7 linked regions of the Homo sapiens genome follow. The protein of the gene in region 4 purifies or fractionates together with the protein of the main gene of each other region. This does not show direct contact. Each region holds a gene or a part of one and is shown on either strand. Other genes may lie near its edges.

Region 1 (4,046 bases), on a different chromosome or scaffold from region 4:
TCCCAGGGTCAGCCTTGCTGAGCCTATGTCTGCAGCACTTCTTGGGAGGCCTGGTCACCACAGTCACCTTCACTGGGATGATGCGCTGCAGCCAGCTGGCCCCCAGGGCCCTGCAGGTGAGTAGATGTAGCAGGGACACAAGAGAGACCACGGGGCTGGGGCTGTGTGGGCCTGACCTTGACCGTGACCCCCACCCCCCTCAGGCCACACACTACAGCCTTCTGGCCACGCTGGAGCTGCTGGGGAAGCTGCTGCTGGGCACTCTGGCCGGAGGCCTGGCTGATGGGTTGGGGCCACATCCCTGCTTCTTGCTCCTGCTCATCCTCTCTGCCTTTCCCGTTCTGTACCTGGACCTAGCACCCAGCACCTTTCTCTGAGCTGAGTGGCTGGAGTGGTCAATAAAGCCACATGTGCCTGTGGCCCAGATGTCTCTGTGCCTGGAATATGTGATGTGCTTGTCCCCAGCTTGTGGGGGTTGCCTCATTGGCCAAGAGGGCCCATAAAAACAAAGTGAGCATTTTTTATTCTGCATTTTGGAGCCTCCTCGTTCCCACACCCTGTGGCAGGTTTTGCCCAGGTCCTCAGTCACTGCCCTAGCCTCTGACAACCCCAGCTCTACCCGACATCCCCCAATGCAGTGCAGTCAGCGGGCCACCTGCAGGAGCTCTTCCGTGGCCAGGCCCACCAGGGCATGGAAGCTCAGGTGCAGGTATTTTCTCCAGAAGCGTCGGTCCTGCCCGTACACCTGGGCCGGGTAGCAGGGGCTTCCTACGGTGGAGCCAAGACACAGCCGTGAGCCCCAGCCCCAGCCTGCAGCGGGTGGAGCCTCCCAGGCCTCACCTGCCCCAGCCCCCAGCCCCAGCCTGCAGCGGGTGGGGCCTCCCAGGCCTCACCGATGCCGTGGAAGATGCGGGCCACAGCCCTGCTGGAGAACTTCTCCTCTGGCCTCAGGGACAGGAACTGGCGGATGTCGCAGCGGACCTGGTCCTCCCAATCCTGGAGCTGTGTGGACAGGCACATCAGGCTTCCTCTGAGCTCCCGTGGCACTGCATCCACAGAGCAAGCCCCATGCAGCCCAGGGAACCTGCAACCCCGATGAGCTGCCTGGCCTTACTGCACTCACTCTGGCCTGCCCTGGCTCGGGGCCCTGTGCGTCCTCCATGCCTCCCGGCTCCTGCCCTTCCTCTTCCTCAAAGTAGCGGCCGAGCAGGTCCTTGAGCCTGGTGCTGCGCTCCTCATCCTGCTGCTCCAGGCAGGGCCCGCAGCTGGGGAAGGCTACGCTGTGGGGAGGAGCCTGTCAGAGCTGATCACTGCGGGAGGGTGGATGGTCCCAGGCCCCGCCCGCCTCCTCCCAACCTGTGAAAGGCCTGGAAGGTTCTGCGCAGACGGGCCAGGGCCTGGCGCTCCCGGGCCTGCACACGGCCATAGAGGAAGTCACATATCTGGTCCTTCTCCTCAGCGGTCAAGTCCCCCGGGCTGCGAAGGTGGAAGGCCAGCTCACTGAACTCCACAAGCACCCCTGTCCCACGCCGCACACCTGCCGGAAAGCATGTCAGATGCAGGCAGGCAGCGTCCAGGGCGGTGTGGGGTGGGGAGAGGCGCACCTGTCCTGGGCTCGTGGTCCCACTGCAGCTGGCAGAGAGCCCGCCGCACAGAGGCCAGCTCCCAGCCCATGGAGTCCACCAGCTTGACCATGTCAAACTCCACGGAGCTGCTGCCTTGCCCTGGGTCCTCAGGCAGCTGCTGGGCCAAGCACACAGCCAAAGGGGGACACCTGTGCCCAGGGAAAAAGGGACATGTGGCCAACAGCCCTGATTCTCCAACCTCGTCTCCAACTGGGCAGGGCGTGCTTACCTGTGGGCCAGGGCCTGGAGCTGGGCAGGGCCCCCAGGGCAGTTCAGACGGCAATGGGTATAGGTGGTCGCCAGCAGCTCCAGCCAGTGGTGTGGGTGCAGCTCCAGGTAGCACAGCAAAGTCTCGATGGCTGGGGGCAGAGCAGGGCTCAGCGGACGCGGGGACAGCCCCTCCACACCCCTGTGGCTTACCCCAGGTTCCTCACCCTCCTCCGGCATGTCCAAAGCCTGTACGGTAAGCTGTATTGGGAGTGCCCGCTCATGGCCCATGCAGACCCTTCTGGGTCCTGGGGCTGCTTGGTGGCTAAGCTGCTCAGCCTCTTGAGGGGGGTACTTGGGCACAGGCCTCTCCCCACCCACGGCCCCTTCCTGCTCCGAGGGCGGCCTGGTGCAGGTGCAGGTGCAGGCTGGGAACACGCGCTGTACCAGCCTCTTCACAGCCAGGAAGTCCGTGCTGTCGGCGTGCACATGTCTGCGCAGCTCTCGCAGGTCTTCGCCCTGCAGGGCAACTTTCATGAGGGTGGGGTGGACCACTGGGGGCTCGAGCACTGGCAGTGTGGGGGGGGGGGGTGCCAACCTGGGGCTGCAGGAAGAGGTGGCAGTGGGCAGGCTGCCCGTCACGCCCGGCCCGGCCCACGGCCTGCACGTAGCTCTCGAAGCTTGGGGGCAGCCCCAGATGCAGCACAGCCCGCACATCTGGCCGGTCCAGCCCCATCCCAAAGGCCACCGTGGCCACCACCACCCGCAACTGGCCCTGCATGAAGGCTCGCTGTACCCGCCGCCGTTCCCGGCTGCACATGCCCGCGTGGTAGGCCTCGGCTGTGGTTTTGGGGGCACGACCTTTGGGGAAGACAGGCAGATGGTCAGTGGGATGGGACCATGTGTGCCCAAGGTGGGTCCACGGGGACACCAGCTCTGTCCATGCCGCACCTCCAGACCCTGGGACCCAGGCTGCGTGCAGGCAGGTTCGGAGGAGCGCAGCGATCCGCTCTGTGTCCTCGCGCCGGTTGCAGTAAATGATAATGGAATCGAGGTTTTGAAAACGTTTGCCTTGCAGCAGCGTCAACAGTGCCTGATGAGGAGCGGTTGGCGTGGGCAGTGGGGAGTGAGGAGGGGTCGGCGTGTGCAGTGGGGAGTGAGGAGGGGTCGGCGTGGGGAGTGAGGAGGGGTCGGCGTGGGCGGTGGGGAGTGAGAAGGGGTCGGCGTGGGCGGTGGGGAGTGAGGAGGGGTCGGCGTGGGCAGTCAGCAGCCAGGGCCCTGCAGGGTCCCCAGAGCACACACACCCACCTGGTCTGTGTCCCTGTCCATGGACACGGAAAGGTGCAGGTTGGTGGGAACTGGGGCTGGCCCGTGGAGGTCAGGCTCTTCAGCCACAGCCAGGTGCTGTGCCACGTCACTGGCAGTGCGGCGTGTGGCTGTGGCTGTGAGGCCCAGGAAGCAGTGCACGCCCATGCGCTCCCGAAGCACCTGCACCAGAGGCGGCAGTGGTGTGAGGCCGCCCAGCCCATCCCGGCCCTGGCCGCCCACCCCAGTTCACATATGGCTCACCTTGCAGACGCGCAGGTAGCAGGGCCGGAAGTTGTGGGACCACTGGGAGAGGCAGTGGGCCTCATCAATGCAGGCAAAAGCAACTGGAGGCAGCTGTGCGGCTGGAGGGAGGCCTCCCGCCCCCACCAGTGCCTCAGGTGTCAGCATCAGCACGTGTACCTGGGCTGCCCGAATCTGAAGGCAGCAAGATCAGAGGCACAGCCCAGGTGCCCGCCCGCTGCCTCCCTCACCCCTAGGCCCATGAGGCCCCCACCTTCTGCAGGACAGATTCCCGTTGCTTCCTGGTCATGCCCGAGTGTATGCAGGCCGCCTTGAGACACGGTGGCAGGCCAGACACCTGCAAATGCAGGAGCGACAGCCGTCATACGCCAGCCCAGCCCTGGCCCTTCCCCAAGTCATCCCAGAGCTGCTGCCATGTCCATCCTAGTCCCTCAGGGGAGAGGAGAACCAGGTCCTGGGTCCTAGGGCTAAGGGTTTAGAGCCACCTGTGGGCCTTGGCCCAGGAGCCCCAGAGCAGACAGACTGAAGTAGGGATGGCTCCTTTCCCAGCACATTTCCCGTAGGGGTGGCTGTGGTGCCTGTGGAGCTGGGCTGCCTTTGACCTGCTGCCAAGACTGGGACTGAGGCCACAGACACCTTGAAGCT
Region 2 (2,928 bases), about 19 Mb from region 4:
CGAGTGCCACCGGAAAGCCATCATCCTAGCTCTGTCCTTCCAATGCTGAGAGTCACATGTTCCCCCATGGGCATCCCTCTCCTGAGTCGGCTATGTGTGTGAAGCCAGGCCAGGCCGTGTGCCTCAGTTTCCTCATCTTCCAAGTCGGGATACCAGCCACAGAGCCATCTCACAGGGCTTCAGGAGAAACTTCCCAGTACTCAGGACAGGAGCTGGCAGTGAGCATGTGTTGGCTCTCATTAGGACCCCACCTGTCAGCGTCTACAAACATGATGTTCAGTGGACCCAAACCTTTTCTCTTTCCCAGAGGTGGCGGCTGACAGAGCCCAGACCCTGATCCCCAGTCCCTTGTGGTCTCTTGTCTGCTAGGCTGGCCCCTAGGAAGTCTTGGATGAACAGAGGCAGTGGGTTGAGGGGAGAATACCCTCAGCGGGCATCTCTCCAGCGGCCAGTTTGTGTACAGCTGTCATAAGTTTCTCTGGGCCACCCCCAACCCATGCCTGCATCCCTCTCACCTTAGCATCCACTGTCATATCACATGAAGCCGCACCACAGTGCAGTGCTGTGACTGTCGGCCTCCTACTGGCTCTGAATAGTCTCGGCCCCACTAGAGTTCAGCCACCACGTCCTCCCCCTGATGTTGCTGCAGTGCTACCTCTTTGGGGATGGAGGTGTGATCTGTGGGTGAACTGGCAAATCCTGTCCCCACGTGCAAATGAAATCACAGCCAAAGGGCCTCCCTTGTCCCTGACTAGCAAGCACGGGACTTTTTCTCTGCTGTGGATCTGCAGAGGACATATGCCCTTTAGCTGTGGAAGGGATTCACAGAAGGCCAGGGCTGCAACCTGTGACCTCAGACCTCCGCTGGCTGCGAGACGGCGGCTGGGCCCGAGGCGGGAGTGGGCTCGGTTTCCTTCGCTGGCGCACCTTCTGATGATGCCCCGGCAACAGACCTGGCCTGGGGGTGCAGGCTGGCCCTGGATCGCCGGACGGTCTTCTCGCCGGTATGGATCCTCTGGTGGTGGAAGAGGGCCGGGCGCTCACGGAAGGCGCGGCCACACTGCGTACACACGAAGGGCTTCTCGCCCGTGTGAATGCGCCGGTGGCTGAGCAGCACGGCGCCCTTGGCGAAGGCCTTGCCACAGTCCACGCAGCGGAAGGGCCGCTCGCCCGTGTGCAGGAGCTGGTGCTGGGTGAGGTTGGAGCTGTGGCTAAAGGCGCGGCCGCACTGTGGGCAGGCGAAGGGCTTCTCGCCTGTGTGCACGCGCTGGTGCTTAAAGAGCGAGGAGCCCTGGCTGAAGGCAGCACCGCAGAGCGCGCACACGAAGGGCTTCTCGCCTGTGTGCGTACGCTCGTGCTGGATCAGGTGCGAGTTGCGGCAGAAGCGGCGGCCACACTGTGCGCAAGCATAAGGACGCCCACCCGCGTGGATCTTGCGGTGCTGGCTGAGGTTGGAGCCGTGGCTGAAGGCCTTGCCGCACTCGGAGCAGCGGAAGGACTTCTCGGCCGTGTGGATGCGCTGGTGCCGCACCAGCGAGGAGCTATGCCGGAAGGCCTTGCCGCACACGGGGCACGCGTAGGGCGTCTCGCCGCTGTGGATGCGCTGGTGCTGCGTCAAGTGCGACGTCTGGCTGAAGGCCTTGCCGCACTGGGCGCACTCGTAGGGCCGCTCCCCGGTGTGGGTGCGTAGGTGCTTGAGGAGGTCGGAGCTCTTCACGAACACTTTGCTGCACGCCCTGCATTCGAAGGACTTCTCCCCAGCGTGAAGAGCCTCGCCCAGCTCGTCCCAGGTCGAGGGCTCCTGGCCACCGAGGAGTCTATGAGGCTCCTGCCAAACTGCACCCATTCGGTGATGTCCCCGACCGCCGGCAGCCTCCAGGTCCTGGGCGCTCCCAAAGGTTCTCCCAGGGACCTCCTGTGCACATGGTTTCTGCCGCTCAGGCGTCCTGGGCTGCCTCCCCAGCAACGCATGCTCTGTGAGTGTCTTTTCTCTAAGCCGGACGCCCTCGGGAGGCCTAAGCGGGGAGGTCAGTCGCAGGCTGACGCTGGCTTGCCCACTGCCTGAGCCTAGCAGGAGCCTCTCCCAGTAGATCACCGACACCCCCGTGGGTTTTCTCTCCCGAGATGGGGAGGCACCCCGTTGTCTCTGCAGGCTTTTTACACTGTGGCAGGCACCGGCAACAGGGAAGACGCTAGTAGTCATCCCAGGTGGGGTATCTGGGAAAGCTCGTGGCCATTCTCCAGAAACATCTCTATCCTCTGTCAAACTCCAGGAACCTAAAGGCAGAGAAACAGTGGTTGCCTGGGGCATCCTGGTTAGGAGAGGACCAGGGCAGGCTGAGTGGACAGGCAAGAAGGAACCCCGGAGCTGGCACAAAAGCTTAGGGGAAAAGTAGAGGTGAGGCTGGCCCTGCAGGAGGGGCTGGGGTTTGGAGGAACAATCTGCCCTGATAGGTATGGCACTGACTACACTGGGCACTCCCATGATCAAGGTGGCAGCCCCCCGACACCCAGGATGTGAAGCTGAGGAAAACTAGCGGCTGCTGTATGCTGCATACATCTCCACACTGGCTATTCCACCCACACTCTTTCCATTGCTTACCCCCTTCCCCCCGCCCCTGTCCCCCTTCTCAGGCACCCACTCCCCAACCTGCTCCTGCAATGACCTCCATCCAGTGCTCTAGACTATACTCCTGAATCCTGCTTACCGACTGCCTCTCCCACCACACCATGAGCCCCAGAAAAGCAGGACCAGGGTCGTCCTGATTGAGGCTGTGTCTACATTGCCTGGACTGGGCCTGACCACTGTGAGCACTCAGGAAATGTTTGCTGAACACAAAGATGAAGGGTGAAAAAAATGACCCATCAATTATGGCAGTGACTAGCCATGGAGGGTTTGAGGCCAGCCCAGCTGATAGCAGGACTCTG
Region 3 (3,500 bases), on a different chromosome or scaffold from region 4:
GTAACAAATGACTAAGTATCAAATTAGGGGCAAAATTAATGGTGAGCTTAGGGTTAACATAAAGAACTGTTTCTAAAGACAAGTATGATTTGAACTGACCTGTGAAGGATCAGTAATTCAGTGTTTCTCAATGGGAACACTGTTGGCATTTTGAGCAGGATTATCTTTTGTTGTGTATGACTATCCACTGTAGGATGTTTTGCCACTCAGGGACCTCCCACTACATGTCCCTCTTGCATTCCCAGAACTGTACCTGGTAGGGGACTACAATCCCTGACTAAGAACTACTACATTTATGAGAGAAAGGATAAAAGAAACATTGATAGACTAGTAGATGGAGCAAAGAAGCAACAGAAAGTAGCAGTGTCTAACAATCCCTACATCTATCAAAGTGACCTGCATGTGACAAACTCCAATTCAATGTTACCTAACTGACTAAAAGAAATAAATGAGTTGCAAATTAGAACCAGATTTCAGAGCACCTTGAAAGCCAGGCTACATTTTCTTCAACCTAAAATTAATGGAGCTCCATTAAAAACTGAGAATGTGCAAAGCAGGAGGCAATAACAATGAAAAATAAACTAAATTAAAAAAAAAACAGAATGAGTGTTAGGTAGGTGGGAGGGGGCAGAAATGACTATTCATTAAACTAGTACCTCATGTCAGCATTCTGCTAAATGCTTAAAGTATCATGTTTTATTCTCAGCGAAGTGCTGCGAGATAGTTATTAATACCACCACCTTACAGGAGAAACACATTTTAGGTTAACGTGCTTAAAAGTCTAAGACCAAAGTTCATATAGGATCTTCCCATTAAATCACATGAATGAGTGAAATCATATAAGTGGTACTTTGGAAAGATTATCATATTTATCTACTTCAAACTTCAATGAATGTACTCTCCTAATATCTAGTTGTTACGTTATAAAAATGATTTAGGAATAACAAAAGCAAGTATTAAAAGCATTTCTTTTGTATGTGGACTACGACAACAGACTTGTGGCATCTCAATGATGTCCAGCCCTTTCTGTCACTCAAAATTCTAGTACCTGAAATAAACTTTATACCCTTTTACTTACAATGGCACTCCTTTCCTTACTTACAGACAGTATCTGTCTCCCTCTTGAGAGTTAGCTTAAGTTGTATTATTAGCTCTGATATGTAAGTCCTGAAATTACTACTTTAGAATTGTTAGGAAATCTGTTACTTTGAACAGGATAGTGGTTGCCTAAATGTCAAACTAGTATTGATCAGCATGTAACTGAACAAATAAAGCTGGTTACGTGAATGAGTTCTAAAACCTTCTGGAATAAAATAGTGTACATGTCATACGATAATCATGGGGCTTGAATTTATTGAATATTATTTGAATATTATTACACTGTTAAGTAACAGGATGCAATACCTTTAAGAACTTTCAATTCAGTAAGTATTAATTAGAGGCCTAAAATGTACTGGCATCATGGAAGACACAAGGTTGGTGACTAGGATACAATACCTAGCAGAAATTTAAGAGTCTCTAAAAAGCAATAGGGAGCTGAAAGAACATGACTATCATCATGTAGAGTTCTAAGAACACCTGTATAAAAGATTTTTTTAATTCTGAGAAAATATTTGCTCCATATTGTTAGTCACTCTATTTACAGAGAAATATATAATGCCAACTGTATAAAGCAAAAGTCAAAACTGAAACTCACCTTTTTCAAAGGAGTAGCTTGCCTCATATCGTACAGTACTATATTCCTGTCAGATGCACAACTTCCCAAGAGAAATGTCTAAAAACAAGTATAACAATCACCAGTTCAAAGCCAGACCTGGCAGCAAACCACATCCATTCAGTAAACAAATGATTTAATTGCCCTTAATATTTATGTTAAAAAACAAAGTCCATTTTAAGAGGGTACAATAAATCATCCATAATCTCAGCAACTTAAACCAAGTATTTTCACTGTAAAATCCTCATGCTTGTATTTTATTTATTTATTTATTTATTTAGAGACAGAGTCTTGCTCTGTCACCCAGGCTGGAGTGCAGTGGTGCAATCTTGGCTCACTGCAACCTCTACCTCCCAGGTTCAAGCAATTCTCATGCCTCAGCCTGTGGAGGAGCTGGGATTACAGGGGTGCGCCACCACACCGGGCTAATATTTTGTATTTTTAGAAGAGACAGGGTTTCACCATGTTGCCCAGGCTGGTATCAAACTCCTGACCTCAGGTGAGCCACCTGCCTCAGCCTCCCAAAGTGCTGGGATTACAGGCATGAGCCACCGCACCTGGCCCCCATGCATGTATTTTAATGTACAGATATTACTGTGTTCTAATTTGTAATAAAACATATTTTACTTACCTACTCTTCAACTTAAGACTTGTTTCCTGTTTTTTACTATTATAAGTAATACTTCAATAAACATTTCCCCCCCACGTAGTTCTTCTTTTGAATTATTTCCTTAGGATAAAATTTCACAAATGACATTACTGAATCAAAAGGTATGAACAATTTTATGGCTTTTGATATTTAGGGCTAATTATTTTTCCAAAGAGCTGTACCAGTATACACTACAATGTGGGATATGTCCATTTTAATGCAACTGGGCAGCACTGGGTAGTGTCATTTAAAAGTGTCATTTAAAATATCTGTATGACAGTATTTCCTAGCTATATAAATTTATTGTTTTATTAGTAAATGTTTCTTCGTGTTGTTAACTCTCTATAAATTAGGCCTGTCTTTTGTCCAACTGTTTGAAGATTTTTCTAATTATTTTATTTGTAAGTCAATTATAAATGTGCATGGTACTCACATAACCCCTTGGCATTAAGTAAAAATAAGCCCTCTATCATCCAGTGGATCCCTGAAACCCTCTCTCTGTAGCATCATTCCTCCTCACTCATGGTTCCTGACACTCACAACTATTGGCTTCTGCCTACAATTACTTCCTATTGCAAGTATGTGGGCAGCAAGAAGAGCTATTTACTAAATAGTTGCATGGCCAGCTAACTCCTCCTACTGTCTGTACGCAATTCAAATAACACATCATAAAGCTAATGTTATGATCATGATTTCCTCTCAGTTCTTTCTGAAAGCCTGCTATCTTAATGGCTGCTTTTCTGAGACTTCCCTAGTGAGGTCCCTCAACCTTTCTTGGCTTCTCATTATGTCGCCTCAGGGTCTGACCAGGTTCCATTTCTAAAAAGAAAGACTTTGATCTGAACAAAGCAAAACAATCTACCTAGACCAAATGCCACCTTTCACACTGTAAAACGTCCCAATGATCAGCATAAACTTTTGGCTTTACCAGAATTCTAGGCTTCAATATTTTAAGAGAAAATTAATTATTAATGATTAGAGGAGACAAATACAAATACACTCCATTTGTTCACAGCAACATGCCCTTTCCATTAAGTTTAAAACAGGATAAGAGACACACACACCATTTACTTTTACCACTAAGTTCATAAGGTTAATAGCAATTAAAAAAAAAAACAGCTGAACAAATACAGCTGC
Region 4 (3,500 bases):
CTGGAGAAGCAGATGATAAGGACGCAGCCTCCCACAGAGCTGGGAGTGGGAACAGCAAGGCCAGGGTGGCTGGAGGACACTTGGTCAGAGAGTTAGTGAAGGAGACAAAGCCAGGGGGCAGGGAGGGGGAACTGGAATGCACAGGGTCTTGGAGGCCTGAGTGAAGACTCAGGAGTCTAACTGGAAGGCCGTGGGGAGTCACAGAAGGCGGATGAGGGAGCAGACAGTGTGGTTTACATATTATGACAATCCTCCAGCTGTCACGTGCAGGACACATGGTGAGGGCAGACACAGACTACTGGCTACACCCTCAGCTGCGACCCTGGTGGCTTGGACAGGGGCCCAGTTCTCACCGAAATCGAGACTCTCTTCTCTCCATAAACTGATTCCCCAGGGACCAGGTTCTTGGTGACCAGTGCATCTTCCTTTCCTCGACAAATGAAGACACCTGGGTGAGGGGATCAGAGCAGGGGTGAGGACCCCCAGCCTCTCCCTGCCCCGAAGCTCAGCCGGCTCCCTGCCTTCCTCACTCACCCTCATGCCGATGCGGCTCCACCATCACATTCTTCCCCGACTGGTTTCCTCTTTTTCCTCCCCGACCACGACCCCGGTTGCCACCAGAATGGAAGCCTCCACCTATAAAGGAGAGGTACAACAGGAGAGAAAGATCCTGAATCTCCGCCCTCCCCACTCCCCACCTCAGGAAGGCCTCCTCTGTAACCCCTAGCCAATCTTACCACCTCTTCCTCCTCCTCCACCGCCGCCGCCGCCTCCACCTCCTCCTCGTCCACGACCTCTAAAGCCTCCGCCTCGACCTCGGCCCCCGCCAAAGCCCCCTCGGCCTCCACGACCACCACGGTCACCAAAGCCCCCTCGGCCGCCAAAGCCACCCCCACGGGGACTGAATCCTGTGGGGGAAACAAAACAGGAGTCAGGGCAATGAAGCTTAAAAGGTTAAACCACCTTGTACCCAGCAATACCTCTCAGGTGAGAAACCTGAAATACATGTGCCCGTGTACAGCAGGACACATTTCCAAGAATGTCCACAGCAAAAGAAAAGTGAAGACTAACCCAAATGTCCATCAATAGAATGGGCAAATAAAATAGAAGACATTCACAATCAAGATCATGAAAATGACCTTCAGTTATACACAACAGACTAATAAATGTTAAAATCATAATAATTTTTTTTGCTTAGTGCTTTTTTTTTGAGACAGGGTCTTGCTGTGCCGCCCAGGTTGGAGAGCAATGGCACAATCACAGCTCACCGCAGCCTCGAACTCCTGGGCTCAAGCAATTCTCCTGCCTCGGTCTCTGAAGTAGCTAGATTACAGGTGTGTGCCACTACTCCCATAGTGTAGAGATGGGGGTCTCACTATGTTGCCCAGGCTAGTCTCCAGCTCCTGGCTCAAGTGATCCTCCTGCCTTGGCCTCCTGAAGTGCTGGGATTACAGGTGTCAGGCACCACACCCAGCCACAATCATACTGCCCAAGAAAAGGAGCAAGGGAATGAGAAATGTAAAACTCATGATATTGGTGAATGGGAAGGAGATATTAATATGGGGTTGGGATAGGGGAGGAGTACATGAATAGATGTAGGTTACTGTTAATATCCTGGTTTCCTTGGTTGCATAGCAGATTCACAGAATTCATTCCATGTCAATATTAATTACTGTGAAGAGTGAGCCCTGCATACGAGCACATGCTGTGACAACAGGGCCCCCTAGACTCTGCAAACGTCTTCATACTCTCCCACTCCTGACCTTGGAGCTGGAAGAAAAGTGTCAACCCCAGCCCCAAAACAGAGGGGAATACAGGATGATGTCAGCCCTAACTCATCTCCCTGCTTCCAAGCTTAAAGAAGTCCCTCTCAGCTCAGGGGAAAAACAAGAAAAAGCAGAACAAACTGTCATTTAAGGATAGGCTGCACTTTACAAGTAGTTTGCGACTTGTCAGTAAGATCGAAATGTTTAAGAAATAACAGACTCAGACAGGCTTTATTCTTACCAGTTCAGGACAACAAACACCATTAGCACAAAACAACGTTTAAAACAGAACTCTGGTGCTAACAGATTCAATATTTTCTCTGATTTGGTTTCAAAAACTCAGAAGTACTAAATCACACAAGTTAAAAAAAATAGTTGGAAAACTAGTGGTTTAAAATTATCTCACATTCTCACATGATGTAATCTATTCAATCATAAGCTTGCTTTTTTTTTTTTTTGAGACGGAGTCTCACTCTGTCACCCAGGCTGGAGTGCAGTGACACGATCTCGGCTCACTGCAAGCTCCACCTCCCAGGTTCACGCCTTTCTCCTGCCTCAGCCTCCCCAGTAGCTGGGACTACAGGCGCCCACCACCATGCCCGGCTAATTTTTTTGTATTTTTAGTAGAGAAGGGGTTTCACCGTGTTAGCCAGGATGGTCTCAATCTCCTGACCTCTTGATCCGCCCGCCTCAGCCTCCCAAAGTGCTGGGATTACAGGCGTGAGCCAGCGCGCCCAGCCTTGCTCATGTTTTTTGTAAAGATACATTATGATCTTGTCCTACGAACCCTTCATGCACCTTAATGGTATTAAAGATAAAAAATGTGTCTTTTAACAGCCATTCCTAATTTAATCTTTAAAAATGAACGGTTTCATTTTCAAAACTCCCAAACAACCAAAAGTTGTTTACTTTTAATCTTCTACTCCCTCTACAGTCCACTTTTCACACAGCAGCTAATACATGCTATTTTTAAAACAGCAAGTAAGATCTCATCATGCCCTTGCCCAAATCCCTCCAATGGTTTTCCACCACATCCAAAATGAAATAAAAAGTCCTTTCCCTGGCTTACAAAGCCTGAAATCAAAGCCTAAAATCTTTAGGCTTTAAATTCTGATTTCATTGTTCTGGGCGCAAGGTCTTCCCCTAAAGCTCTCCAGGTGACTCCAAGGTGCAGCCCACATTGAGTATCATCATCCTAAGGATCTGGCCTGTGCTGACTTCCCTGACTTCATTCTCTTTATGCTGGGCCCCATGCTCTTCCCCACCAAGCATACACAGTCCAGCTTCTAAATCTTTACCACGTGCTGTTCCCACTGCCTGGCTCCTGCAGACATGTGCATGGCTCACTCGCTCCTTCACTGCATTCTGGTCTCTGATAAAATGTTAGTTCCCCAGAAGGGCCTACTTTGGCCACAGTACCCTTACCCTGCTTTATTTCCCTTCAAATCAATTATCACACATGGCATTTTTAATATTATTACCACCTGCCTCCCCCACTAAGATCAAGCTCCAAATGGGCAGGGATTTTTAACTGTTTTGGTCACCACCGCATCCCCAAAACCCTGCACAACATCTGGCACAAAGTATGGGCTCAATAAATGTTAAATGAGCACTGAGCTGATGACTCTTAAACCCTGGGCCCTGCCTCAAGGAGAAAGCACCCTCTATTTGTTCAGAAAGCACACAATCCATCAGATGGTGACCAGGGAAGTGCCGGTCACTCCCCTCAAGTAT
Region 5 (2,247 bases), on a different chromosome or scaffold from region 4:
TCTCGCTCACCTGGATTCTAGGGGGAAATGAAAAAAGATATATTTAAGAAATAGTGTATTTATGTTTTGAATGTAAATATTTCTTCTTAAATATTGAAATTAAACCAACCAATACCTATTTTTCTCTCTCCTTTGTCCCTTTCTTTTCAGAGAAGCATCATTACTTGAGAAAGAGACCACTAGATTTTTCTTTTTCTCTAAGAATGATGAACGACTTCAAGGTCAGTCCATTTTTTTCATCAAATTACATACATAGAACAGGTAATAATACAGCTACAGTAATTCACATCCAGGAATTTTGACCGTTGGTAATGTCATGTGGTTTAACCCCATTTGTTCACACTGATGAATGTTAACTTGTAAAGCTGTCAAGGTCTGAGAGCTCCCCACTCACCACTTTCTTTGCCCGCTCATTCTCATCAACAAAGGGTTGTTTTGTTCCAAGGGCTTCCTTAGATGTTAGACATATAAAACCCCTAAGTTTTAGTGCCATAAATTCCATGTGAAAACTCAGGCTGTTGGGGAGCTCATTTCTTAAAGCCTAGCATAAACAAAGTTACATAATAGTAAATGATATATATAAACAGTAAAAGCAATATTATATTTTTCATTTGGAAAGAAAAAATACTAATTTTTGAAAATAGGTAGAAACTGAGGGAAAAGAATGATCTTAACTGGTATTCGAGACCTTGATAATGCCAACACTTAGAATATTACCAATTTTAGTAGTAGTTTGCTGCCTCATCTTTCTTCTTTTTCCCCTAATAGGTTCTGACTTATTCTGGAGAGGAGTAGGAAGTAATATGAGCAGGAACTCTTGGGAGGCCAGAACAACCAACCTGCGTATGGTGAGTAATTGTTTCTCCATATTATTTCCTAAAATAGACATGTTACCTATCTAGAATTACAGTCCTGGAAGGGAACTCATGAATGGTATAGGTGAGGAGACTGCAGACTGGCTCAATTGAGTGACTGGTCTCAGAATCCAGCCAAGCCTATTAAGTAACACGAAAGCATCAGATTTTTAAAGACTGAATTATAGTTCCCATTATAAACAGTTAATGCCAAAAATGCCAATATCCCCTCTTCATTTCAAAAGAGCACTTTCAAAATAGGTTTCCACAGCCCTGACAGTGAGAATAACCTGTTTTACTTCTATCTACTGAACATCTTAAAAACAATTTGTTTATTGCTAACCAAGTCTTTTTTTTTTCCTAGGATTGTCGAAAGAAACATAAAGACGCAAAAAGGAAAATGAAACCAAAATAATAAATGTCAGCTGGTTTTGATACTGAATGTGAACAAGGCTCACCTAAGGAAACTGACCCAGAAAACAGTTTTAGCTGACAAAGAAGAAATTTCAGAGTGAAGGAATTTTAAAAATCTGGCTGACGGAATATCATTCTGGTTGCCATCTTTTTCTGTGGAACTCCTCTGCATTTCTTCCTAAGTAATTACTTCAAAAATTAAATTCAACTTCTTATAAAGGAAGAACAAGATAGTCCTTGAAAATACTTTTTGTATATAATCTCTTTGCCCTCTATCCTGAGTAACTAATGGACATCTTCTCATGCAAGGTTTATATGAAGCCTTTTTAAATAAATGAGTCAAAGCACTTGTATTTTCCAGCCTAGGCTTTGTGTGAATTATAGGCTATTTGAAATTTTATTTCTGATTATGTCAAATACACCTTCCATTTTGTCATTTTTGTTTAAACTGATAAATTACAAGTCAACATTGAGTTTTATACTTGTGTTTTGGTGAATGGTTAACTGAAATATAGGACATTTCAGACCAACATCATATAAGAGTTCTGTGAGGACCAGGAGAGGAAGCCAAATACAGTTATCTTGTCATTGCCTCTAGGAATTAAGGAACAACATCTAGATGTACACCAATCCCAAAATTCTAGTTAGACTAAAAGCTTATGAAAAATACCAAGTGCCTGAAAGATAGGTAGTCACAATTAGGAGTCAGGACCCTGAGCCCAAATAGGGAAACAGATTTAACATTACATTAAATAAACCAACCTGCCTAGATTTCAAGACATACGTCTCCTATCAAAATGGGCTCTGTATGAAATAGTATTACATAGGCCGGGCGTGATGGCGCACACCTGTAATCTCAGTACTTTGGGAGGCCAAGGCGGGCGGATCATGAGGAGGTCAGGATTTCAAGACCAGCCTGGCCAACATGGTGAAACCCCATCTCTACTAAAAATGCAAAAATTAGCTGGGTGTGGTGGCT
Region 6 (3,500 bases), on a different chromosome or scaffold from region 4:
CTTAAAAAAAAAAAAAGAAAAAATTATCAATGAAAGCACATCACAAAGCCAAGTGTGATGGCTCACACCTGTAATCCCAGCACTCTGGGAGGCCAAGGACAGCAGATTGTTTGAGCCCAGGAGTTCAAGACCAGCCTGGGCAACTTGAAGAAACCCTGTCTCTAAAAAAATAAATTAAAAAAAAAAAAAGAAAGAAAGAAAGTACACATGAAGCCAAAGATCAGGGATTCTCAACCTCAGAATTACTGTCATTTTGGGGCACAGAATTCTTTTTTGTGGGGGTTGTTCTGTGCATTGTAGGATGTTTAGCAGCCTTCCTGGCCTCTATCCCCTATATGGTAAGTACCATGAGTTGTGATAAAAAACAATACTTTCTCAAGATATTGTCAAACGTTCCTTGAGGAACAAAAATCACTCTTGGTTGAAACCACCACAAATAGAGCCAATTTACACTTAGCTTTTAGGAACATACCTAAGAATCAAGTCCCAAATTGCCGAGTAACATGATTTCAGTAACATGTGTAAACTTGCCATGTATTTACATAAAAAATTCCTTTGTATTAAAAATATTTTCTAGCTTTTAAAATATGTACAGTCAATCCTTCTTATGGCAGGTTCCACATCTGCAGATTCAACCAACCATGGATTGAAAATATCCATAAATATATAAACAATACAGAATTTTAAAATACAGTGTAACAACTATTTACATAGCATTTGCATTGTATTAGGTATTACAAATAAGCAAGCCATGATTTAAAGTATACAGTGGATGTGTGTAGGTTATATGCAAATATGCCATTTTAAATAAGGGACTTGGGCATCCACAACCAATTCTCCTCAGTTACCAAGAGATGACTGTATACTTTTTAATTAACATGCTGAAAACTAAAGTTTTTCATAAGAGCAGAAAAAAATGAAAATATGGAAATAAAATAATAAAAAATAGATCATGTAAGCCGGGCACGGTGGCTCACGCCAGTAATCCAGCACTTTGGGAGGCTGAGGTGGGAGGATCTGTTGAACTCAGGAGTTTGAGACCAGCCTCGGCAACATGGCAAAACCCCATCTCAACAAAAATACAAAAATGAGTCAGGTACAGTGGCGCGTGCCGGTGGTCCCAGCTACTGAGGAAGCTGAGGCGAGGGGATCGCTCGAAGCCAGGAGGTGGAGGTTGCAGTCAGCCAAGATCATGCCACTGCCCTCCAGCCTGGGCGACAGAGCAAAACCCTGTCTCAAAAAAAAAAAAAATTAATAATAAATCATGTAAATTCTAGAACTGTGCCATACTTCTAGCTGCACATGGCTACTGACCACTTGAAATGTGGCTAGTGAAAATGAGAAACTAAATTTTTTATTTTATCTAATTTTAATTTAAAAACTGAGACAGTAATTTTTATAAAATATTATCTTTTTTTTTTTAGAGACAGGGTATCACTGTAACCCAGGATAGAGTACAGTGGTACTATCACAGCTCACTGCAACCTCAAACTCCGGCTTAAGTGCTTCTCCTGCCTCAGCCTCCCTAGTAGCTATGATTAAAGGTGTGTACCACTGTGGCCAGCTAATTTTTTTAATTTTTTGTAGAGATGGGGTCTCACTATATTCCCTAGGCTGGTCTCAAACTCCTGGCCTCAAGTGATCCTCCCACCTCAGCCTCCCAAAGCACTGGGATTACAGGTGTAAGCCACTGTACCAACCTAAAATATGATTATTGTATCATAGTGCACATGTTTAGATGCTTAATTTATTTCTAGTATCTTAATAATTTTGACATAGATTACATACTGAAATTATATTTTATATGTAATATATATTTTATTTTTACATTAGATATTAGGCTAAATAAAATGTGCTATCTAACTTTTAGGTCAGGCGTGGTGGCTCATGCCTGTAATCCCAGCACTTTGGGAGGCCAAGGTGAGTGGATCACCTGAAGTCAGAAGTTCCAGACCAGCCTGGCCATCACGGCGAAACTCTGTCTCTACTAAAAATACAAAAATTAGCCGGGCAAGGTGGCAAGCGCCTATAATCCCAGCCACTCAGGAAGCTGAGGCAGAATCGCTTGAACCCGGGAAGCAGAGGTTGCAGTGAGCTGAGATCCCACCACTGCACTCCAGCCTGGGCAACAGAGCGAGATGTCATCTCAAAAAAAAAAAAAAAATTAATTTATCTAATTTTTAAAAAACTTTTCAGGCCAGGCACAGTGGCTCACACCTGTAATCCCAGCACTTTGGGAGGGCGTGGTGGGCAGACCACACGAGGCCAGAAGTTCGAGACCAGTCTGGGCAATATGGCGAAACCCCGTCTCTACTAAAAATACAAAAATTAGCCAGGCATGGTGCTGCACACCTGTAATCCCAGCTACTTGGGAGGCTGGGTCACGAGAATCGCTTGAACCTGGGAGACAGAGGTTGCAGTAAGCCCAGATTGTGCCACTGCACACCAGCCTGGGCAACAGAACAAGACTCTGTCTCAAAAAAAAAAAAAAAAACTTCAAAATATATGAATGTACAATAATGATTTTAAAAGATGGTTTATAGAATAACATTATTTGAAAGATTATCATTCAAATGGTTCAATAATGTTGTTTAAGTATACAAGTTAAAACAAATTGTGTCAAAGGAGAAAATAAGTAGCTATGGGTGGCCGGGTGTGGTGGCTCACGCCTGTAATCCCAGCACTTTGGGAGGCTGAGGTGGGCGGATCACGAGGTCAGGAGTTCAAGACCTGCCTGACCAACATGGTGAAACTCCGTCTCTACTAAAAATAAAAAACTTAGCCGGGCATTGTGGCGCGTGCCTGTTATCCCAGCTACTCAGGAGGCTGAGGCAGGAGAACCACTTGAACCTGGGAGGCGGAGGTTGCAGCGAGCCGAGATTGCACCACTGCACTCCAGCCTAGGTGACAGAGTGAGACTCTGTCTCAAAAAAAAAGAAAAGAAAAGAAGTAGCTATATGTAAACAAAAGGTCAAAACTATTTTCAACTCAACAGGTTTTTTTCTCCTGGAAATCATTATCTGTATACTTATCACAAATATTGCTGAAATAACTCATTTCCTCAAGCAGTAAACAGGTGTACACTAATAATAATATACAAAAAAATTAAAATGCCAACCTATCCAGTGAGCCAGAGAGTAACCTCTGTCCAGAGCTGCTTAGACATAAACATGTCACGGTTTTGTGATGATTTTTCAAAGATACTAGCAATTGTCCTCCTTTTAACATGTCCCAGACTTTAACATAACGACCTCCTATAAAAAGAAATCATCGTTAGTTGGATATTCTGCCCACAGATTCAACATATTAAAGATCTGAAAAGCATTCTTCTCTGGACACTCCACAAAGCATGGAGGCTGAGTGAGGGAGTCCAGGCCAGGCTGCCTGGTAAAATCCTGGATGCACCACTTCCTGGGTCATTGGTAATAACAGTTCCTACCTCACAGAACTGTTATGACCATTAAATAATATTTGTGAAGTGTACATAAATTCCAGCAAAA
Region 7 (3,500 bases), on a different chromosome or scaffold from region 4:
TATATGGTGCTGTGAATTATTGCACTGGGGTTGTTAGGGTAGAGAAAACTGAAACAATGAGTCATCCTTGCCTTTCACTTTCCTAAATTGCCCACAAGCTAATGTCCCAAACTCAGTATTTTTCCCTTACAGATCATTCTGAGTATTGCTGCTGTAACAATTTTCCTAAGTTGTTACTGTTATAACATTATTACTCTAACTCTTATTTCTAGTCTTGCTCTGAACTTTTTAACAGTTTTTTGTTGCCTCCTTAACTATAGCTCCTCTATATGGCTTTCAATCCCTTCTCTGATATAGCTCAACTCTTCCTACCCAACTGTTTCCTGATACTACCCATTATAGACACTTTGCTTGTCAGATAAGTACATTATCTGTGTCTTGTATATAATCATACCATTTCCTTGCTCTTGCTTATGTTGCTATTTTTTCTTCCCACCCCTTAAATCATACATCCTTCAGAGTCTAGTTTAAATCTTGGTTCCGACTTGAAACATCCCTAATTTCTTACTTCTTCACTTTCTCAACAAAGATGAATCCTATGTGACAGGTGTTGTGGTGGGTGCATTACACACCTTCCAGTCTACAAGGTTAAGGTATTATCCCTATTGAGTGAGTGCTTGCTGTGTATGCTAAGCTTGTATTTGCATGCAATGTTTCACTTAAACTCTATGAGAACGTGTTATTTACATTTTACAGTGGCTAACTGTAAGTGGAGATGTGAAGTTTAAAGAGGTTAAGTAAATTCTCCAACATCATTCAGCTAATACATAATAAAGCTGACATTCGAATCCATTTGTGTTTGACTTATTATTGTTTCTAATAAGTGAAAACACAGTGTCTCACCTCAAAGACTCACAGTCTGGTAGAGGAGAAACATAGTACACAGACAGTCTTAATGCCTTGTGGTAAGTTCTGTGATGGAGCTAAGCCCACCGTCGTGTAGAAGCACATTAGGACGGGTGCTGATCTAGAATGAGAAGATGAGGAAGGGCTTCCGGGAGAAAATTCTGAGCTGAATCTTAAAGCAGTAGTCAAGAGTTCTGAGAAATGGGAAAGACTGAAAAACTGTCACTGATTGGAAGGTTCTGAGAAGATATGACAACTAAGGTGGTATGCTGGACTGGGGTCTAGGAACATAAAAAAGACATTAATGGAAAAAGTGAAGAGCTCCAAATAAATTATGTAGTCAATAGTCATGTACCAGTGTTAATATCTTAGTTTTGACTAACATGCTGTGCTTATGTAAAGTGCTAACATTTGTGGAAGCTAGGTGAAGCGTATGCAGGAACTCTGTAATTCTTCTGTAAATCTAAAATTATTTCAAAATTAAAAGTTAAAAAATAAGCTTACTCTTAGGAAATAAAAAAGAAGTAATTAGAAAACGTGTTCTATGTAGATAGCAGAGAGTGCAAAACCATGGAGAGAAAGTTGACTTTGAAGGGTTGCGTTTAAGTAATTGAAGCCATTGTTCTATGCTGAGAAACAAGAAGAGAGGATATTCCTTTTTTCTGAGGAAGCTTATCAGAATCAATTAGGGAAAGTTTTCTTGGCCAACAGTAGCCCCCTACCCACCACTGTCTCAAGGAAGCCATATCTAAAGGACCTCTTCATATTGATAGGGTGTGTCTGGGGGATGGGGGAAATTGTTGGAGTTATGAACTATTTTAATAGAGCACAGTGTTAAGTGAAAAAGTAGTTCAAGTTAGACTGGGATCAGACTACCAAAGCCTTAAGAATTTAGATCATTTCCTAAAGTCAGAGGGAAAACAGTGAAGGATTTTAGCTTTATCTGAGCAAGTAATATGGTCAAATTTGCAAAATTAGTCTGGTGTGACTGTGAAAGCTGCATTGAAGGACTGTACCTGGAGACTGTAGGAAGCCCTGAAGAGTGGCCCAGGCTGGAGATGTTAAGCTTCTGAACTGAAGTACTCATGGGAATGGAGAAGAGGCTCCAGCCAAAGGGCAGGTTATATATCGCAAATGCTTTGTTGCTCATACATTCTTGATCTTATACCATTTCATACAACCATGCCTCCTGGCTGACAGCACTTACAAGAGACCATTGATTATAAGATGCATTCTAATTTCAAAGAGATGAACAAGTGAAAATCAAGTGTCTTGAACTAATAAAATAGGATAGTAGTGGTCCCAGTTTGCAACAAATTTAGTGTGTTGTAATACAGTAGCTCTCCCTTGTCCACAGAGGATATGTTCCAGGACCCTCAGTGGATGCCTAGAACCACAGGTAATACCAGACACTCTATATAGTAAATGTTTTCCTATACATACATACCTATGATAAAGTTTAAGTTATAAATCAGGCACAGAGATTAACATCAATAACTAATAAAATAGAACAATTATAACAATATGTCAGCATCACTACCCTTATACTTTGGGGCCATTATTAAGTAAAATAAGGGTTACTTGAACATAAGTACTTCAGTACAGCAATAGTGGATAGGATAAACTAGACAGTTTCTACGTGACTAACGGGCAGGTGTGTCTACAGCAGAGAATGCTGGAAAAAGGAATGATTCATGTCTCAGGTGAGACAAGGGAATTCACTACTGAGAATGGCATACAATTTTAAACTTATGAATTGTTTCTGGAATTTTCCATTTAATATTTTCAGATTGATCTTGACTGTAGGTAATTAAAACCAGGGAAAGTGAAACCATAAATAAGAGAGTACTGCTATGAATATAATAGACACAGAGCAAATACTTTTTACTTGGAAGATACAAGAAGATTTATATTTCTGCGCCTTGTTCTGTGATAATATCGTGAAAGTAGTCAAACAGTGCCCCAAGTAGCTTAACCACTTTTAGTAATTTAGTAGCTGCTGCTACATGGAAGAAATCCACAAATCCAGAAAGACAAAGCAAAGCTAGCATTTCAGCAACAAGAAACAAAAATGGAATAAAGTCTTTGTATTTTTCTGTACAAAAGGCCCAGACCTCACCAACTGGAGCAGAACCTTTGACTTACCATTTGTAAGCTGGTGTTGCCAGTGAACCATGGAGATGTTGGGGACATGGAAAAACACTGCTGTTGGCAGTACTATTGAAGAGTAATAGTTGATAGTGACTAGTACAGTGTCTGCATCCATTTAATGAGCAGGCAACTTGGTTAAGCTGGCTGTTTTTGCAGGATAATTCCATTTATAGCCTCTGTCTACAAACAGTCAAGAGATATGATATTGGCATCATTAATCTTTTCTGAGTTAATAATCTCTTCTGAGTTAATGAACTGATTGGTCATAGATGTCCCCATAGACAAAAGGCACACAAATTTGAGTATACAATTCTTAAACTATACCAAAAGAAATGTCTGTTGCATTTTTATCATGGACAATAAAAAGATCCTACTACCTATTGAGTATGTGATATGGTTTGGCTGTGTCCCCACCCAAATCTCATTTTGAATTGTAGCTCCCATAATTTCCACATGTGGGAGGGACCCAATTGGAGATAACTGAATCATGGGGGCAGTTTCCC

The links.
Region 1: the proteins of FBL (region 4) and RECQL4 purify together in Homo sapiens (affinity purification with mass spectrometry; 4 studies listed by BioGRID and IntAct, with this or other methods). This does not show direct contact.
Region 2: the proteins of FBL (region 4) and ZNF324 purify together in Homo sapiens (affinity purification with mass spectrometry; 3 studies listed by BioGRID and IntAct, with this or other methods). This does not show direct contact.
Region 3: the proteins of FBL (region 4) and DCAF13 purify together in Homo sapiens (affinity purification with western blotting; 3 studies listed by BioGRID, with this or other methods). This does not show direct contact.
Region 5: the proteins of FBL (region 4) and NOL8 purify together in Homo sapiens (affinity purification with mass spectrometry; 3 studies listed by BioGRID and IntAct, with this or other methods). This does not show direct contact.
Region 6: the proteins of FBL (region 4) and UTP15 purify together in Homo sapiens (affinity purification with mass spectrometry; 4 studies listed by BioGRID and IntAct, with this or other methods). This does not show direct contact.
Region 7: the proteins of FBL (region 4) and WDR75 purify together in Homo sapiens (affinity purification with mass spectrometry; 3 studies listed by BioGRID and IntAct, with this or other methods). This does not show direct contact.

The regions. Positions count from the first base shown.
Region 1 is NC_000008.11:144,510,788-144,514,833, forward strand, and holds the end of RECQL4 (ATP-dependent DNA helicase Q4), read right to left. Parts: intron 3,739-4,046; coding exon 3,655-3,738; intron 3,576-3,654; coding exon 3,402-3,575; intron 3,321-3,401; coding exon 3,141-3,320; intron 2,926-3,140; coding exon 2,784-2,925; intron 2,694-2,783; coding exon 2,431-2,693; intron 2,352-2,430; coding exon 2,060-2,351; coding exon of another isoform or gene 1,985-2,059; coding exon 1,855-1,984; intron 1,775-1,854; coding exon 1,605-1,774; intron 1,538-1,604; coding exon 1,357-1,537; intron 1,281-1,356; coding exon 1,124-1,280; coding exon of another isoform or gene 1,115-1,123; intron 1,003-1,114; coding exon 894-1,002; intron 769-893; coding exon 644-768; 3' UTR 501-643; downstream 1-500. Other genes in the region: SLC33A2 (major facilitator superfamily domain-containing protein 3), read left to right, coding at 7-377. UniProt on the Homo sapiens protein: An ATP-dependent DNA helicase which unwinds dsDNA with a 3'-overhang in a 3'-5' direction. Does not unwind more than 18 bp of dsDNA. May modulate chromosome segregation. The N-terminal domain (residues 1-54) binds DNA Y-shaped DNA better than ss- or dsDNA.
Region 2 is NC_000019.10:58,470,080-58,473,007, reverse strand, and holds part of ZNF324 (zinc finger protein 324A), read right to left. Parts: intron 2,278-2,928; coding exon 854-2,277; 3' UTR 1-853. UniProt on the Homo sapiens protein: May be involved in transcriptional regulation. May be involved in regulation of cell proliferation.
Region 3 is NC_000008.11:103,428,886-103,432,385, reverse strand, and holds part of DCAF13 (DDB1- and CUL4-associated factor 13), read right to left. Parts: intron 1,775-3,500; coding exon 1,697-1,774; intron 1-1,696. UniProt on the Homo sapiens protein: Part of the small subunit (SSU) processome, first precursor of the small eukaryotic ribosomal subunit.
Region 4 is NC_000019.10:39,839,880-39,843,379, forward strand, and holds part of FBL (rRNA 2'-O-methyltransferase fibrillarin), read right to left. Parts: intron 909-3,500; coding exon 738-908; intron 637-737; coding exon 535-636; intron 449-534; coding exon 354-448; intron 1-353.
Region 5 is NC_000009.12:92,296,858-92,299,104, reverse strand, and holds the end of NOL8 (nucleolar protein 8), read left to right. Parts: intron 1-150; coding exon 151-221; intron 222-768; coding exon 769-848; intron 849-1,218; coding exon 1,219-1,269; 3' UTR 1,270-1,747; downstream 1,748-2,247. UniProt on the Homo sapiens protein: Plays an essential role in the survival of diffuse-type gastric cancer cells. Acts as a nucleolar anchoring protein for DDX47. May be involved in regulation of gene expression at the post-transcriptional level or in ribosome biogenesis in cancer cells.
Region 6 is NC_000005.10:73,572,243-73,575,742, reverse strand, and holds part of UTP15 (U3 small nucleolar RNA-associated protein 15 homolog), read right to left. Parts: intron 3,255-3,500; coding exon 3,119-3,254; intron 1-3,118. UniProt on the Homo sapiens protein: Ribosome biogenesis factor. Involved in nucleolar processing of pre-18S ribosomal RNA. Required for optimal pre-ribosomal RNA transcription by RNA polymerase I.
Region 7 is NC_000002.12:189,444,474-189,447,973, forward strand, and holds part of WDR75 (WD repeat-containing protein 75), read left to right. Parts: intron 1-3,500. UniProt on the Homo sapiens protein: Ribosome biogenesis factor. Part of the small subunit (SSU) processome, first precursor of the small eukaryotic ribosomal subunit.